Regions from separate parts of the Homo sapiens genome. Here region 1 is linked to region 2. Evidence: fine-mapped expression QTL. A gene starts in region 2. The other region holds a variant in brackets. All regions are shown on one strand. Distances are from middle to middle. Region 1 has its middle 89 kb from the start of HS3ST2. Region 2 holds the start of HS3ST2 (heparan sulfate-glucosamine 3-sulfotransferase 2).

The links. PIP is the estimated chance that this variant, and not a neighbour inherited with it, causes the effect. A credible set is the group of variants that fine-mapping cannot tell apart.
Region 1: its variant is the best candidate, but not a certain one, in a credible set for the expression of HS3ST2 in lung (GTEx, PIP 0.51).

The regions. Positions count from the first base shown.
Region 1 is chr16:22,720,553-22,730,105 of GRCh38, forward strand. No RefSeq gene overlaps it. Among named protein-coding and RNA genes, the nearest start is that of HS3ST2, 89 kb to the right of the region's middle. The variant C/T (reference allele first, on the strand shown) is at 4,476.
Region 2 is chr16:22,810,356-22,819,908 of GRCh38, forward strand. HS3ST2 (heparan sulfate-glucosamine 3-sulfotransferase 2) reads left to right here and starts at 3,807. Exons shown (of 2, transcript NM_006043.2): 1 at 3,807-4,740. The coding sequence starts at 4,256. LOC107984851 (collagen alpha-1(XVI) chain) reads right to left here and starts at 4,504. Exons shown (of 4, transcript XR_001752349.2): 1 at 4,352-4,504; 2 at 2,632-2,909; 3 at 1,928-2,046; 4 at 1-282.

The DNA of each region.
Region 1 (9,553 bases), 90 kb before region 2:
TCCTGAGTAGCCGGCATTACAGGGACATGCCACCATGCCAGGCTGATTTTTGTATTTTTAGTAAAGACAGGATTTTACTGTGTTGAGCAGGCTAGTCTTGAACTCCTGACCTCATGTGCTCTGCCCGCCTTGGCCTCCCAAAGTGCTGGTGTGAGCCACTGCACCCGGTCAAAATATTTCTTCTAGTAGTTACCTCCACATCTCTACATAATATGCAAAAACTGTTGTTTCTTGATTTATCAATTGTGGACATTATGTATTGACTGCCAGCCATGACGGATGAGGATTTAACTAATTTTTCACTACATTCCTTTTTCTTTTTTTTTGAGACAGAGTTTCACTCTTGTTTTCCAGGCTAGAGTGCAATGGCAGGATCTCAGCTCACTGCAACCTCTGCCTCCCGGTTTCAAGTGATTCTCCTGCCTCAGCCTCTGCAGTAGCTGGAATTACAGGCATGTACCACCACGTTCGGCTAATTTTGTATTTTTAGTAGAGACAGGGTTTCGCCATGTTGGCCAGGGTGATTTCAAGCTCCTGACCTCAGGTGATCTACCTGCCTTGGCCTCCCAAAGTGCTGGGATTACAGGCGTGAGTCACAGTGCCCGGCCACATTTTTTTTCTCTTCCCTGTCTTCCTGCTATGATTATCTTATTATATATATTTACCTTTGCAATTTTAGGGACAAATTTAGGCTAGAGTTTTACATTTTAGGCTGTTATAAAAGCAACGCTTATGACAGCCCTGGGGAAGGAGGCCAGGTGGCCGCAGGTGGCAGCAATATGGGTGGGTGGCAGGTGAGGAAGGACAAAGCCTTGGGGGCATCCTTCATGTTTCTCTTTCTCGGACAGTCCATGTCCATAGAACCAGATGATTCTCTTGGCTCTGCCTTCAAAATATATCCAATTAGACTGCATCTCTCGATGCCTGCGATGCTTCCATTCCGATCTAAGCCCTGTCTTCTCTTGCCTGCGTTATTGTAATTGCCTTCTGATGGGTCTCCCTGTTTCTGCTATTGCCTCTCTGCCAAAGGAGACATTTAAAATGTAAGTCAGAGCACACCACTTGTATTCTAACCACACACCTCCCCCCCACCGCCCCCATACCTCTCCACTTCAGAGTCAAAGCCAACTCCCTGCTGCCACATCTGGACCACAGCTGCTGCCTGGGTTTCACTGCCAAGACGCTCTTCCTTTCTCCCTCTGTTCCACACTGGCCTGGATGTTTGTTCCTCAACGAAACCAAGCACACTCCCACCTCCGAACCTGCGCATTTTGATCCCTCTGTCTAGAATATTCCGACCCCAGCAATCTGCATGGCTCATTTCCTTTCACCAGCTGCTCTGGAGGGAGTGGCACTAAAGCCAGGAAATGGCAGGTGCAGATCAGCATTTGAGAGAGCTTGACAAGTGGGGTAGGAGGAGAATCGGGCACCAGGGAGGAGGAGGACCCAGCCATGCCTCTAACATGATGGCCTCAGGCCTGATTTTTGGTTAAAGTAGAAGGAGCAATGGGAAAGGGAGAGGCTAGAACCTGAAAAAGAAGGAAAAGTGGACTGGGCACGGTGGCTGATGCCTGTAATCCCCGTGTGTCCAGACTTAGTGGGTGCTTGGTCTCACTGACTTCAAGAATGAAGCCGCGGACCCTCGTGGTGTTACAGTTCTTAAAGGTGATGTGTCCAGAATTCGTTCCTTCTGATGTTTGGATACGTTCGGAGTGTCTTCCTTCTAGTGGGTTTGTGATCTCGCTGGTTTCAGGAGTGAAGTCGCAGACCTTCACAGTGAGTGTTTACAGCTCTAAAGGCAGCACATCCATAGTTGTTCATTTCTCATGGTGGGTTCATGGTCTCGCTGGCTTCAAGAGTGAAGCTGCAGACCTTGGCAGTGAGTGTTACAGCTCGTAAAGGTAGTGCAGACCCAAAGACTGAGCAGCAGCAAGATTTTTTGCAAAGAGCCAAAGAACAAAGCTTCTACAGCGTGGAATACGACCTGAGCAGGTAGCCACTACTGGCTCGGGCAGCTGCTGCTGGCTGCTTTTATTCCCTTATCTAGCCCCACCCACATCCTGCTGATTGGTCCATTTTACAGAGAACTCATTGGTCTGTTTTACAGAGAGCTGGTTGGTCTGTTTTGACAGGGTGCTGATTGGTGCGTTTACAATCCCTGAGCTAGACACAAAAGTTCTCCAAGTCCCGCTAGATTAGCTAGGCACAGAGCACTGATTGGTGCATTCACAAACCCTGAGCTAGACACAGGGTGCTGATTGGTGCATTTACAATCCTTGAGCTAGACACAGAGTGCTGATTGGTGTATTTACAATCCCTTAGCTAGACATAAAGGTTCTCGAAGTCCCCACTACACTCAGGAGCCCAGCTGGCTTCACCCAGTGGATCCCGCACCAGGGCCACCAGTGGAGCTGCCCACTAGTCCCGCGCCTAGCCTGCGCCCACACTCCTCAGCCCTTGGGCGGTGGATGGGACCGGGTGCCGTGGAGCAGGGAGCGGAGCTTGTCGGGGAGGCTCGGCCACGCAGGAGCCCACGTGGGGAGGCAGCTGAGGCTTGGTGAGAATTTGAGCGCAATGTCGGCCGGCGGGCACTCCTGGGGCACCCGTCGCACCCTCCACAGCTGCTGGCCTGAGTGCTACGCCCCTTACCACCCGGGGCCGGTGGCGCTGGCCAGCAGCTCCGAGTGCCGGCCCGCTGAGCCCACGCCTACCTGGAACTCGCGCTGGCCAGCAAGCGCCGCACGCAGCCTCGGTTCCTGCCCGTGCCTCTCCCTCCACACCTCCCCGCAAGCTCAGGGAGCCGGCTCTGGCCTCGGCCAGCCCAGAGAGGGGCCTCCACAGCGCAGTGGTGGGCTGAAGGGCTCCTCGAGCATGGCCAGAGCGGACACCAAGGCCGAGGAGGCTCTGAGAGCAAACGAGGGATACGAGGGCTGCCAGGGCTGCCAACACGCTGTCACCTCTCACCAGCACTTTGGGAGGCCAAGGCGGGTAGATCACTTGAGGTCAGGAGTTCGAGACCAGCCTGGCCAACATGGTGAAACCCCATCTTTACTAAAAATACAAAAATTAACCGGGTGTAGTGGCACACACCTGTAATCCCAGCTACTCCAGAGGCTGAGGCTGAGGCACGAGAAGAACTTGAACCTGGGAGGAGGAGGTTGCAATGAGTCAAGATTGCACTACACTCCAGCCTGGATGACAGAGCAAGACTCCGTGTCAAAAAGGAAAAAAAAAAAAAAAAAAAAAACCAAAAAGTTAATGGGGGAAGAATGTCCCTAAGGAGGGAGAGGGCGCAAGATGAAAAGGATAAGGGTATGAAACAAAATTAATTAACAAGTTCATGGCTGAGAGCCATACTTTTCTCTACAAAATGGAAGGCAGGGTCCAATCCAAGGGGGCTGGGGCCAACTTAGGGGACAGAGAAGTGATCACGTGGGTTTCAAGCTCATCAGCTGCTGAGGGGTACAGGAGAGGGAGATGACAAGGGGAGTATAAATGGATTTCCCAGGGAGGGATAGCATTAGGAGAAATACCTAATGTAGATGATGGGTTGATGGGTGTGGCAAACCACCATGGCGCATGTATTCGTATGTAACAAACCTGCACATTCCGCACATGTATCCCAGAACTGAAAGTACAGTTAAAAAAAAAAAAAGTGAAAAAAAAAAAGATGATGTTTCCACTGAGGCGCACTAATTGTGAGCGAAGTAGGATCATGGATAAACATCAGCAGGTAGGTTTTGCATTTGCTCAGTGTGAGACAACTATTGTATGCCTACATAGTGCATGGCCTTGTGCTTCCTGATCCATTCTTCGTGATTCCCTTGCTCTATGTGTATGGCAGGTCTTCACCCCTGCAGGTAGTGTTTCCCAGGCTACCTTGTCAGCTAAATCTTGGCAGCATATGGCCCCTATTAAGAACTGGCTGGAGCTTGGAAGGCAGAATAAGGCAAAAAGGCGAGTATTTCTCCCTTTTTTTTCCCTGTGCTTTAAGTGTGGTTTCCATCAGCAGCTACTTCTCTTCCATGACTCCAGGTTCCTCCACGCAGTTCCGGGTTGTCCTCATTTATTCCCGTCCAGTAACTCTGCCTTCTGCTTTTCCCCCTGTAGTGAAAGAATGGCAAAAACATCTCCTCTTACCTGAGGCTTATGAGCTCTTCTAACATCTGCATAAACGACTTCATAAATTAAATTATCTCTATTTCAAATTTTAAAAAAAGGATTTCCCTGAATGCTGAGTGACCCAGCAAAACTGGAGTTGAATTTGAAGTCTCCACATTTGTGCTTGTATGATGTATGCTTTTCCCCTAGCAGTGCTTGGCAGTATGTTGTAATAATAACAACAACAATAATGATAACTAACATTTAATAGAGGATTATTATTTTCCCTATTTAAAAAATGAGGAAACTGAGGCACAGAGAGGTTACATAGTCAGTGAGTAGTCAGTGTTACTCAGGGTTCTCCAGAGAAACAA[C/T]GGAACCAATAGGATATTCATTCATTCATTCACTCATTCAGAATTGGCTCATGTGATTATGGAGGCTGACAAGTCCCAAGATCTGCTATCAGCAAGCTGGAGATCCAGGAGAGCTGATGGTGTAGTTACAGTCTGAACGCTGGTAACCTTTATAGCCAGAAAGAGCACATGCTGCACTTTCAGTCTGAAGATAGGAAAGAACAAATGTCCCAGTTGAAAGAACTGTCAAGCAGAAGGAATTCCCTCTCACTTATGGAAATGCCAGACTTTCTATTCTATTTCTGCCTTTAACTGATTGGACAAGGCCTGCCCACATTAGGGAGGAAAATCTGCTTTACTCAGTTTACCTATTCAAATGTCAGTCTCATCAGAAACACCCTCGTAGACACTTGTAGAATAATGCTTGACAAATGTCTGAGCATCCCATAGACCAGTCAAGTAGATGCATGAAATTAACCATCACGGTGGTGGAGCCTCAATTCAAACCCAGGCAATCTCTACCCATTGGAGTCTGAGGCTGAGCAATTTTTGAGATAGTGGCTGAAATATTGTGGAGTGATTGAAGTAATGCTCTAATGGAAGTGTAAGCTGGGAAATACTAGTACTGATGATATTACTACTAATAATTATTGCTTTTAGAGATCAAGCCAAGATAAAGGTTTGGGAGTGGGAGGTATTGGAAGTCTCCAGGGAGCTTAGGAAACAGTTGAAACAAAAGTGCTGAAAGGTGTATTATGGAAGGTATAGGAGAAGCTGCTGCAACAGAAGGACCAGAAAATACAGAGGTTTAAACAGAATGGAAGTTTATTTCTTCCCACATAACAGTTCAGAGGTGGGTGAGAAGGGTTTGCCAACCCCGATACATAGTTACCATCTCTAGCCCAGCTTCTCCAGTTGTTAGCACCTCCCAGCCAATGGGAAGAAGGATTGCACAGAGCAGTGCATGGCTACCTTTTCTAGGATCTGCACCTGAGCTGTCTGCCATGGCGACCATCTGTGGCTATTGCGCACTTGAAATATGGCAAGTGAGAATGAGGACGTGAATTTTGTATTTAATTTCATTCTAATTAGTTTAAATTTACATTTTGAAAAATCATACTCCATTCACTTATTTTTAAGGATGTTTGAATAACTTTTAAGGATGTTTGAATAACTTGGATATATTGAATGTGCTTTTTCAACTACAAATTGTATAAAACTGAAATACAGATCAACTCTCCCTTCCTTCCTTTCTTCCTCCCCCGCTTCCTTTTTCTTTTTCTTTCTCTTTCTTTCTTTCTTTTTCTTTTCTTTCTTTCTTTCTTTCTTTCTTTCTTTCTTTCTTTCTTTCTTTCTTTCTTTCTTTCTTTTTCTCTTTTTCTTTCTCTTTCTTTTTGAGACAGGGACTTGCACTGTCACCCAGGCTGGAGTGCAGTGACACAATTATAGAGGACTGCAGCTTTGACCTCCTGGGCTCAGGTGATCCTCCCACCTCAGCCTCCCTAGGAGCTGGGACCACAGGTGTGCTCCACCATGCCCAGCTAATTTTTGTATTTTTTATAGAAACGGGGTTTCCTCATGTTGCCCAGGCTGATCTCGAACTCCTGGGTTCAGGTGATCCACCTGCCTTTGCCTCCCAAAGTGCTGAGATTACAGACATGAGCCACTGTGCCCAGCCCAGATCAACTATTTCTAATGAAAATGTAGCATCTTCATTGAAATGTGCTGTGAGTGTAAAATACCCACTGGATTTTGAAGACTGAGCGTGGAAGAAAACAATATAAGGTATCTGATTAATACTTTCTTATATTGCTTACATGTTGAAATGATAATATTTTAGACATTTTGGGTTAAATAAAATATATTATTGAAGTTAATTTCCCTTGTTTCTTTTTACTTTTAAAAAATACAGCTACTAGAAAATTCAGAATTACATATGTGGCTCATGTTATATTTCTGTTGGACAGTGCTGGTCTAGACAACTAAAAAATGTACACGTCACTTGAGCTCACATCCATTGAGCAGGAATTAGTCATGTGTAGGCACCAACCTGCAAGGGATGCTGGGAAGTGTAGATGTCATCTCAGCTAAGCAGCCAAGTATCTGCAGAGAATTAGCAGTGATGGACAGTCAGCAGCCTCTGCTTTGGAAAGACCAGAAGTTATGATCAGAGATGGTACAGGCATGACAAGGTCCAGGATGTAATAGAGTGTAAATAGTTAATCCAGAGGAGGAGGTTAAGCAATTGTGGATAATCATTTTGTCATTAAATGCAAGATACTTATCTTCCTATTTAGTCTACCAAAAAGACACAAATACAATTCTTTTCAACAACTGTCTTGGACACTATTACCAAGTTGCACCTTAAATTTTAAGTGAGCATTACAATTTTATACATATCATCATATAATCCTTATAAGAGCCAGCACTCAGCACAATGCCTGGCTTGTTGTAGGTGCTCAACAAACATTAGTTGAACAAATATATGAATGAATTAGGCCATTTAGATGGAGATAAAAGAAAAGGAAGTAAAAAATACATAATTCATTTATTCAACAAATATTTGAGCATTTACTGTGCTAGGCACTGGGGATATAGCAGTGAACAAAAGAGACAATTCTCTTCTCTGGAGGAACAAGGCTTAAAATAAACAAGCAAGCATACAAATATTGTAATACGATATCAGTTCACAATAAGTACAGTCATGTGCTGCATGACAATGTCTCGGTCAATGACAGACTGCATTTGTATGATGATAGTCCCATAAGATTATAATACCGTATTTTTACCGCACGTTTTCTTTGGTTAGATACACAAATACTTACCATTGTGTTACAGTTGCCTACAGTATTCAGTACCACAACATGCTGTGCAGGTTTTTAGCCTAGGAGCAATCGGCTATATACCATGTAGCCTAGATATGTAGGAGGCTCTACCGTCTAGGTTTGCGTAAGTACACTCGATGATGTTTGCACAATGACAAAATCACCTGACATTGCATTTATCAGAGTGACGTGAGTAAGGTAGAATTGGAGATGTCTGTGGGAAGAGCATGACAGGTAAGAGGAACAGCAAGTTCAAAGACCCTGAGGCCAGAATGTGCTAGTGTTAGTGGAGTAACAGCCAAGAAGCCAATGTGGCTGGCAAGGAGTGGGTTAAGAGTAAGAATAACAGAAGATGAAGTCAGAACTGGTGACAGACTAAGATTGTATTTGATTTTTATCTTCAGTGAGAGGGAGACCCGCAGAAGAGTGTCCTTCTTTGAACCTGTTTAAAATTGTTACTGCACCTTTTTGTAAACAATTCCTGTCACAGAAGGCAAGGAGGTGTGAACAACCTTGTGAATGAGAGCCCAGGTAGGGAGAGAGCCAAGCTTTTTCTGACTTTTGCTAAAGAGCTTTCAGAAATTGGTTTACTTAGCTGTGTTTAGCATTCCCACACTTTCTCTTTGGCAGACTGAAGAGACAGCAAAGTGTTATTTTGGGCTTCCTTCCAGACTTGGAATTAGTTTGTTTTCGTCTTTTATCACAAACATCCTGCTGCCCTTTGACAGTATTCCTGGTAATGGAACCTTTTTGTTTTGTTATATTTTAATCTGCTTAGTGCATGTGGCTTGTCTATCTGGCTTCACAAATCACTGGTTATCATCACAGTCAATGGTCTGTGTCCAGCCAATTTCACAGACAAACACCTCTTTCCTGGTCACAGGCCCTGATGTGGGGAAGTCTGATTTACAAAGTCAATAAAAATGCATTCAGGGAATTACTGGGCCCTGCTGGCTTAATATACGAGATTAAAATCTCCAAGTTTGGGACAACGAGAAGTCATTTAAGACACGTAAGATGGCAAGTGGATTATGGAAATGTCAGCTGGTCAGGGTCAGGCACCACTGGGAGGGGATTTATTGGAAGATGAAGAGACTAATTGATTAATTGCCTTCAGTACTTTTCCCAGGGTGACCTGGGGAAGATATCATACTACATCACTGGTCACTTTGGAGAGTGGACAATTTTTCATAGTGGAAGGTCATCTAGACCCAAACCAGGAGGGTATTTTTAAAGAAAAATAATTTTTTAATTAAAAGTTTTACTCATTGCCAAATTAGTAAGTGTTCCTTTTACATGTTGTAGTTTGGCTAACCTGGAAGGTGGACTCTAAGAGAGGAATTTGCATACAGTTTACTAGGGAGTACCCTTGGAATCACACAACTCAGGGAGGGAGGAAAGCAGGCCTGGCAGAGGAAGAAATTGGGCTGTGATGCAGTTGCAACAGAGGCTTAAGCTGATCGCGGGAAAACTCGGGAACTGGGATTAGGGAAAGGGACCAGTTATTGGATGTAGATATCCCCAAGAAAGGTGTGTGACCCTGAGTGAGGCTGCTCTCAGCTGAGGACAATTCTTGGAAAGTGTTTCGGCTGAGAGTTGTTAGTGGCTAATGTTCCCAGCAGCTGAGGAAGGAGTTCATCAGGCCAGCAGTGGGGATCTGGGTGGCACACCACAGCATCCACCAGAATAAACATCTTAGAAAATAGAAGCAAAAGGAAGGAAATAAAAATGACTCCAGATTGCACCATGTTGAGAAGAGGATTGTTAACTTTTTGGTGTGTATCTTCTAAATCTTTTATATCATAAATATATAGGTAAAGGCATAGATACCTATATCTATATACAGATACATATATAGGTATATACATAGAGATATATGTACATATATCAATTGTGTATTGTGTATTTTCTTTATACATATGCAAAAATGAATCATGTTATTTCATCTTGTTTTTTCTTAACATAAACTTTTTTTCTGTGTTAATGTAGATTAAAACAGATACATCTAGTTCTTGACCCAGAATTTCACAGCAAAGAATTTGCACTGGGGAAATAATCCGAGATGCACATACAAGATGTTTACTGCCGTATTATTTATAACACTTAAAAAATCTGGAACAACCAAATGTCCAACAGTAAGGGTCTAATTAAATTACATTATAGGATATCCCTACTGTGACCATCAAAGTTTAGAACAGGGGTCCCCAACCCCTGGGACCGGTACCGGGCTGCATAGCAGGAGGTGAGCGGCGGGTGAATGAACACTACCACCTG
Region 2 (9,553 bases):
GGTTTATTCTCACTAGAAAGATTTGAGTTACTTTCAGTTCTTGAAATATAATTAGAAAGTGATGATGTCAGGCTTGGTCATATGCCTGTCTTTGAACTATGTTCAACCCATACAAACCACATGGGAATAAAAGAGGGAAAACTGTTTGTCCAAGGATGGCAAGGATTACTAGTTGTCCTCCATAACCATTCTTTAGTTCTTTCTTGATACCAAAATCTCAAAGTGTTAGCCAGGCATACAGCCATCCAGAATCAAGACTGCATTTTGAAGCATCTCTTGAAGCTAGAAAGTCAAATGATAAAATGCTGTCAAATTGAATACGAGTTGAAATAATACAGGCAACTTCCAAGAAATGTCCTTAAACAGATATGGCATGTCTTTACATATTTACTAATGACCAGAATGTGAACATTCTGGCTGCAGATGAATAAGTCATTGTAGACTATGTGGTGACTTTAGAATGGAGGAAATGCATGGTAGAGTAACAAGATAGAGGGAGCCTGGGTCCCAAACACTTTGGAGCTTCCATACAAGCCCTAAAGTACCTTCATCTGGACTTTCATGTGATTACAAAAATAAACATATACCTTGCTTAAGTGGGTGTTAATTGACAAACTACACAACCCAGCATAATCCTACCTGATACCCCCAAAGCAGAATCACGTTTGCTACTGTAAACAGATAAAGGTTTAGGAGATGGGCAGGTATGTCCAATGTCTCACTTCCTAAAAAATTCTATCCAAGTCAGTCATTACTCTGATTGGAAATTTGAAGAGGAAAATCTTCCTGGTTTTGATATATGTGAGTACCCAGGGATATCACAGTTTATGAATTCAAAGGTTAAAAATTATTTAAAAATTAAGCCAAGCACAGAATTATGAGAAATCATTATATTCATGTTTTATTTTCTAAGGGAAATAGTACTGATCACAGCAGATGACTCCACATTTAACCTTGTAATTTTAACAATGGAATACAAAAATAGCAGGTTCATGATGTGAATAATTGTTCAAAGTATATATAAGAGCTCCTTCCAGGCCAGGCATTGTGGCTCATGTCTGTAATTCTAGCACTTTGGGAAGCTGAGGCAGGAGGATCACTTGAGCTCAGGAGTTCAAGACCAGCTTGGGCAACACAGTAAGACTTCATCTCTACAAAAAATTAAAAAACTAGCTAGGTGTGGTGGCACATGCCTGTAGTCCTAGCTACTCAGGAGGCTGAGGCAGGAGGATCCCTTGAGCCCAGGAAGTGGAGGCTGCAGCATGAGCTATGATTGCACTACTGCATGCCAGCATGGTCAACAGAGTGAGACACTTCCCCTCACCCAAAAGAAGAAGAAGAACTCCTTTAAGTATATTTGTTTTGACATTTTTATTAACAATTAGAATGAGGAATTAATTAAATTGTGATCAACTGTGGAAATTACATGATGCCAAGTGAGTGGTTCATGCTTTGGGTAATGGAATCATAGAATCATGCAACATCTAAACTTTGAGAGACTTTTAAGGTGAATCATAGCGTCCCATTTTACAGCTGAGGAACCTGAGGCTTAAAGGGGGTCCACTTGCCCAAAGTACACCTGGAATAAAGGGTAAAGCTGGGATACAATCTTTCTACTTTTTCTTTTTGAATAAATGAAAGCTACCTCGTGGTTTGACTTCAAATAGACATTTAAAAAAAACTAGGGCAGCGAACTGATGAGACAAGATGAAATGCAATCAAGTCAAATCTATAAGGACCTACACATTGGGTCCAAAAAGGCCCACTGTACAAGCACAGTATGGGGTAGCTGTGCCTTAATCAGCAGCACTTGTAAGAAACATTTAGAGATGTTACTTGGCTGCAAGTTTGAGATGTCAGCAGTGTGATATAGCCACAAGAAAAAGATAATGGAGTCTTAGGTGGCATTACTAGAAATAGAACTTACAAAAGAGAGGTGAGAGTCCTGTTGAACTTTTCAATCCATATCTGAAATTCCTCGCGCAGTCCCAGGTGTGAGATTTTAGAAGAGACATAGACAAATTAGCTTACATCCAGGAGAGGAGCCTAGGATGGAATTATATGAATAATGGTCAAAGGAAGTTAGGAAGCTGCAAAGTGCTGTAACTAAGAGCTTGAATCTTGGAGTCAAGACTGCCCGGGTTTAATCCCAGCTCTGCCAGTTACTGTGTATATGTTTGTTAAATCTTCTTATCACTGCCTGTAGATTAGAAATTACAATAATACCTATCTCCAAAGATAAATGAGGTAGTGCATGTCAAGTGATTAGCGCATAACTCCCATAAAACAAGCACTCAATAAATGCTAGCTACTATTAGAATTAAGACAGCAAAGTGATGCCAGGGTAATGGTAACAACTTCATAGGTTGTGAATATTTAATCAGTTAACCCATGCCAGGTGCTTGATACAAAGTTGGCAGCTATTATTATTATCTGCCGTAGAATTGGTTTAAGGTTTCTAGGGATGGGACTAGTTTGGGGACAAAATATTTTCTGGTTTGGGCTAAGATCCACAGAACCTAATGATCAGTTTACAGCCTGAGGAAGGAAGTCAGTTATACCCTGATCAGGGTGGGGGTCATGGTGGTCATCTAGACATTCTATGGCTGGGTGGTGGTGGAGGGCACTCACCTTGTGAACACTCGGACATGGTGAATTGGCATTGGCATTGCTGTTGAAGGACAACTCAGCCGTGTTCTTAGCCATGGCCATTTAGGCCTGTTCTGATGCAGGGTTCTGATCCAAGGTACCAGTGTGGTCCCTCAGGGAAGTACTGGGGATCGTCACTTATGCCTGTTCTGGACATGGTCACCGAGAACTGTCCTGTAGGCATTCACTTAGGAATCATTCGAAGTGGAATTGCTCCTGGATACGTTCTCCTTGTACTCTGTTTCCTCCTCCTAGTGTCTCTGTGTGAAGAAGCCCTCCTCACTCAGCCCTCGGCGACCCTCTGGTACCCTGGACAGCTCCCCGGGGAGCAGTCTACCGCTAGGCGGCGGCTGCTAAGAGAGGAACCCTCCTGACGCGGAGTCTGCCGCTCCGGGGCTCGCTCTCCGGCAGGCCCGGGGAGAGGTGGGGTGACAATGGGTTGGGGTGCGCGCGTGCCTCATAGGTGCGAGACAGAGCGAGCCGCCGGGGTGTGAGTCAGCGCGCTGGGGGCTAAGAAGCTGGGTGAATAGTCACGGAATCTCACTCACGCTCGGCTCCTCCACCCATCCCGTCTACAGCGCGTGTCCCAGTCCAGGGCGTGCGTGCGCTCGGTGTCCGATTCCGGGCTGTGTGTGTCCATTTGGCGAGATGTCGAGAGCGGGGGGAGTGTCCTTGTCGGTGTATCTGGGCCCAGGTTAGGGGACTTCTCCTCCCCACCCCCGCGTGGGTGTGGGGGTGTGTCCGGGCTAGGGCGCGTGTGCTTCTGTGCCTGTGCGTGCGTGTGCGGGTCAGGGTGGTGGGACCGCGCATCAGGGCAGGGTGCCTGCGTCTGCGTCTGGGTCTGTCTGGTCTGCATGTCGGCGCGATCTCGACCTGGATTCGTGTCCCTGGATGTCGAGAGGCCAGCGTGGTGGGGGTGTCCAGCCTCCCGGAGGAGTACTATGCCTTGACACCTTCGTTTCACCGCCCCAAAGCTGGCCTGGGGCTCCGTAGGGAGTGGCCTGCATGGGGAGGGCCCGCGTGCTGTGTTTCTGGGAGGGGTAAGAGAGTGGGGGCGCAGGGGGCGGGCCAGGTCCCTGGGCGCGGCGCGGGCTCGGGGGACCCGCGCGGCTGACGTCAGGCCACTCCTTAAATAGAGCCGGCAGCGCGCTCCGCTCGGCATTTCCCGAAGAGCCAGATCGCGGCCGGCGCCAGCGCCACCGTCCGGTCCACCCGCCAGCCCGCACAGCCGCGCCGCCGCCGAGCGTTTCGTGAGCGGCGCTCCGAGGATCAGGAATGGGGCTTCGGGCGCTGGGCGCGCTCCGAACCCGGCGCACGTAAGAGCCTGGGAGCGCCCGAGCCGCCCGGCTGCCCGGAGCCCCATCGCCTAGGACCGGGAGATGCTGGAAATGCAACCGCCTGTTCCCCGAGGAGCCGCTGCCCCCGGGACCCCCTGGCACTGTGCGCACCCTGGTCAGCAGCCCCCGGAGAAGACGGCGCCCCCAACGCCCGACCCGCGTGGCCGTGGCAGCGCCACGCGAGCCCTCTAGGCGACCGCAGGGCCACAGCAGCTCAGCCGCCGGTGCCCCCTCGGAAACCATGACCCCCGGCGCGGGCCCATGGAGCCATGGCCTATAGGGTCCTGGGCCGCGCGGGGCCACCTCAGCCGCGGAGGGCGCGCAGGCTGCTCTTCGCCTTCACGCTCTCGCTCTCCTGCACTTACCTGTGTTACAGCTTCCTGTGCTGCTGCGACGACCTGGGTCGGAGCCGCCTCCTCGGCGCGCCTCGCTGCCTCCGCGGCCCCAGCGCGGGCGGCCAGAAACTTCTCCAGAAGTCCCGCCCCTGTGATCCCTCCGGGCCGACGCCCAGCGAGCCCAGCGCTCCCAGCGCGCCCGCCGCCGCCGTGCCCGCCCCTCGCCTCTCCGGTTCCAACCACTCCGGCTCACCCAAGCTGGGTACCAAGCGGTTGCCCCAAGCCCTCATTGTGGGCGTGAAGAAGGGGGGCACCCGGGCCGTGCTGGAGTTTATCCGAGTACACCCGGACGTGCGGGCCTTGGGCACGGAACCCCACTTCTTTGACAGGAACTACGGCCGCGGGCTGGATTGGTACAGGTAAGGACCAGGAGCTCCGCTCCGTGCGCCGGGTCTCTGATCGCTTCCATTGGGAGAGCCATCCGTCTCTTGTGTTTTCTCTTTCTTTTAACCCAACTCATTGTATGGGTTCAGGCTGACACACAGGGCCATGGGGGGCTATAGCAGAATTTACCCAGAACTTCCCAGTGATAATCTAGACGGGCAGTTTCTGGAACTGCAAAGGGCGTTCCCTCGTCACTGGAGTCGTTGGAAAAGGATTATCTCCAGTCAAACCTAAGTGCCAGCTAAAGGGCTAACTCCCTCTGTGACCAGCCCTTAGGGTGCCCAAGGAAGGGACAGGCGAGGACCTGTGCTGCCTGAACACGGCACCATCCTAACCCTCTGTAGGTCTTTGCTGGTACCCAGCCCCTGAAGGACCCTGAGAAAGATAAGGCAGTTCAGAGACCCCTTGCAGCAAGGCTCTGTTTGGGAAAGGTCCCCAGAGTTCAGGCCAAATGACAGTGCATCGCCAGAGGTCTCCAGTAAGAAAGATGCCTTAGGGAGTCTCAATCTCAAACCCAGGTATTTGCTGCTGTACTGGGGCTGAGACCCCCAGTAGCTCTGGCCCTGGTAGGTGGTCTTTGAGTAGTGGAAAGAGCCCTGGATTCGAGTCTTGGGTCTGTCACTTAAGCTTGAGCAAGTTTCTTAAACTCTATCAGCCTCTATTTTCTCATCCATCCCAATGGGCAGGAAAACAGCCCTTGCCCTGTATACCTTCCAAGGCTTTTCTGAAGTGCCTTAAAGGTGTAAAAAAGGCACTTCACTTTAAGTGATGCTTCTAAACCAGCAGCCAAAATGTGGAATTTGAAGGTGGGCCCTGCGGGTGAAGGCTAGCAAGGGTGCTAGGGGCAGCCAGTCATGCATAGACTGTCTATGCTTCCCATGCATGCCAGGGAGGAGAATTATCCCCACTGGGGGAGTCAAGGCACAGACCAAAGCTTCTGTGAGGTGGCAGCGTCCACGCCTCAATGCCTTTCTGCCTCCCTAGCCCTGTATGGTGCTGAAGTGTAGGACTGGCCCACATGTGGGTGGTGTAATGTCCCGGCTCCCTGTTAACACATAGGTCACAGAATTCTCACAATTCACCTGACCCTTTGAAGACTTTCTAGAAACATCTGCATAGTAATGACGTTGGGGAGGGGTAACATGGTAGCTGACAGAGTAGCTGAGGCTAAATCTGCTGTTTTTATCTACAGCTTTAGGCAGTAGAGGTCATATGCATATTGGACAAGGGACAACTTTGTTAGAAAGAGGACCCCACTGGGCTTATAATAGAGGGCCCTGGATTTACCAAAAGTAGGGGGACCGCAGGCCTGATTTAGCACCTTTGCAGGTTACTCCTGGCTCGCAATGGTTGTAGTTGTGGGGACGAGTGGGTCATGCATCATCCTTAGCAGGCAGACACATAGTCTGTCCCCATTGCAGCCAACCAGGGGCTAGCTAGCCTGTGGGTGGCCCCAGCACCATTATGTCTGGTTAATAGGGTAGGGTGGCACAGAGTGGCAGATCTGGCTTCATGCCAATGCCAATAGCCCACTGTGCTTTCCAAGCTGTGACTCATGGGCATCCCGTCTAGGTGCATGTGGACACTGTCTGAGTCAGATCCCGGGATGGAGGAGGCAAACACATTGAACAGCAGAGCCCAGAGTGGGTCAGCCATGACCACATTCGAATGCAGGCCAGCATTTCCTCGATGGAAAATCTGAAGATCATTATGACACCTTTTGCCAATGCGAAGTGCCTTTTAAGTGCAAAACAGCAAAATTCTGAGCATCTGGCTTTCAGATAGTGTGCCCTCCAATAAATACCTATGCCCTGAACCCAGACTCTCCTCCCTCCCCTCTCTTCCTTCCACCACTAAACAGCATACCTCAGGCTTCCATCCTGGAGCCCATGTCATTCAGGGATGGCTGCTTTTTATTTTTAACCTTGGCATGTGTGATTCTAAGCAAGCTTAGCTGTGAACCTTAGAGAGGGAAGCCATGTCTTATTTTTTATTTATTTATTTTTTTTTAGCACATTTGGATTCTGCTAAAATTCTCAGCTGAGTCTTGGTAGGTTTTATTTAACATCAAGCATGCTGACAGCTCTGCTTCTCTCTTCTCTCCCCCTCTACCACCTTTCCCCACTTTATATTTCTAAAAGACTATCCTAGAGGTCTGGTCGTAATTGCCCTCTCCCCATTGCTTGACCAGGAAGGCTGGGAGGCTCCAGTGTCAGGAAAAGGCTGTGTGGTTTGTGCTTCTTTCAGTTACAAATCCACACCCCTAGAGTCAAGTGTTTAGCTTGTGGATTGCCATTTCTGTGCAGGGTAATACTACCCCACTTAGATGCTGTTTCCATAACCTCCAGAACATCTTTCTGTATGTAAAGAACATTTTTGTACATTTCTTTTTATTATGACCAAGTCATACACATTAACTGCAGAAATCATGGGGATTTCTGGAATCTTTTAAAACCCATGTTCTTACTTTCTTCCTGAATCCCATGAGCTAGGTACGGTGGGTGACAGGATGTTCCGCTCTCTGTCCACTGCCTTGTCAGTTCACAGCTTGCCATCATAAAGCCAGGGTCCACTGGGCAGACATAGCCAAAGAACCCTTGCACCCATTGGAGTGGACTGTGCTTTCCAAAGGGGGAGGTGCAGAGTTGCAGGCAGTGTGGATCTTAGTATGATCTGCCCACATCAAAGCCCCTGGTGATAACTTCCTGATCAGGAGGCTGAAATCCAGATAGTGGAAAAATCAAAAGCTTTACCCTTAACCCAAAGGAGGGGCTTCTTTCTGTGGGTAAATGGAGATAAAGCTGAAGGCCGAGTGATATAGCCAGAAAGACACCATCATTTGGAGAGACCAGGAGACAGAGTCTGCACCTTCTTGTCCTTAGCCTGATCCTTCTTGGGAACCACTCCCGTTCAGGCCACTACCAGAGAGCCCAGCCTTCTGCAGTGGGTTCTCTCCAATTTGCTGTCTTTCTGCCATGCCATCTCTGATGCTTACCTCAACTATGTGTCTGGCCTGGGTTCTCCCCCACCCACATTTCCTCCCCGAGGTAAGAGCTGCAGGGTGGTATCTCCTAGCTGCTTGGACAGGTGGGCAAAGCAACACCAGGCTGATGAGGGAACCAGGACAGGGAACCACAGTCAGAAGACCAGAGGTGGTCACCTAGGTGCTGTATGATTTGAAGAAAGGTGATTCTCCCAAGTCTCAGCTTCCTCATCATGGAATGGGACCTGTAGTAACTATCCTAGAAACGTGTTGTGAAGAATAAATGCAAAACTGTACATGAAATTGCCCTGGAAAATTCTATGATATATAAAGACAAGGCAGTAATGTTACTACTGTTATTGCTACTAATTACTACAACACTCCTGTTATCACTATTAGTTCTGTTAGTATTAAAAATATTAGTTTCTGATGCTGCTGCTGTTACTAAATCGGGCTGAGGAATTAATCAATTGCTATAAAGATAGTTCCATACTTTCCTCTTTATTCCTTCCCTTCCCTTCCTCCTTCCCTCTCTCCCCTTTCCCTTCTCCTTTTCCTTCCTTCCTTCCTTCCTCCCTCCCTCCTTGCCTGCCTTCCTTCCTTCCCTCCTTCCTTCCTTCCCTCCCTCCCTCCTTCCCTTCCTTCCTTCCTTCCTTCATTCCTTCCTTCCCTCCTTCCTTCCTTCCCTCCCTCCCTCCCTTCCTTCCTTCCTTCCTTCCTTCCTTCCTTCCCTCCTTCCTTCCTCCCTCCCTCCCTCCCTCCCTTCCTTCCTTCCTTCCTTCATTCCTTCCTTCCTTCCTTCCCTCCTTCCTTCCTTCCCTCCCTCCCTCCCTCCCTTCCTTCCTTCCTTCCTTCCTTCCTTCCTTCCCTCCTTCCTTCCTTCCCTCCTTCCTTCCTCCCTCCCTCCCTCCCTCCCTTCCTTCCTTCCTTCCTTCATTCCTTCCTTCCTTCCTTCCCTCCTTCCTTCCTTCCCTCCCTCCCTCCCTTCCTCCCTCCCTCCCTTCCTTCCTTCCTTCCTTCCTTCCTTCATTCCTTCCTTCCTTCCTTCCTTCCCTCCTTCCTTCCTTCCCTCCTTCCTTCCTCCCTTCCTCCCTTCCTTTTCTCTTTCCTTCCCTCCTTCCATGTTAACAGAAAGTCAGTTCACATATCTGGGTGTCAGTCTGCTCACCTGTGAAATGGCAATGATGCCTGAACTGCTTTGCAACCTTATAAAAATCAAGTAAGACTATCTACATGAAAATGTTTTTCCAAATCTAAGGTTATCTTTAGGATGCTCTCCATTCTAAGGAAGTTTGGATGTGAAATAGACTCTTCAGGGTCATCTTTTATAAACAGATATAAGCTTTGCTGTGTGTAGTAGTTTTTAGAGTCACAGGGAAAGCTGAGATATGTCTGAAGTGTTCTCAATTTTGCTGGTGTTTCGGTATGGCAGGGGAATGTGTGTGTGGAGGAAGTGTATCTTTTCTAAATGCATTGAAATGCCAACAAGAGCAAGTTAATATGTGATAATTGACTCTGTGTTCTGGTGTCCAAATTTTGATAGATGAGCCTGTTCTATAAATTTCAGACTTCACTTCACAACTCTGGTTATTTATTTGTTCAGCATCGATGATGTTCTTGGGATGGTGCAAAGCAAAGAAGACAGAATATTTGCCCCAGAGGCAACAGTCTAAGTACGAAAGAGAATAAAAAGCCCAGAATAAGATCTATCACATTATCCAGTTCATTTTCATCAAGAAATCATATTCTAATTGCAAAGCCCAATTCTGGAAATGCAAACCTTAGAAAAAAATAAAATCAAAGGC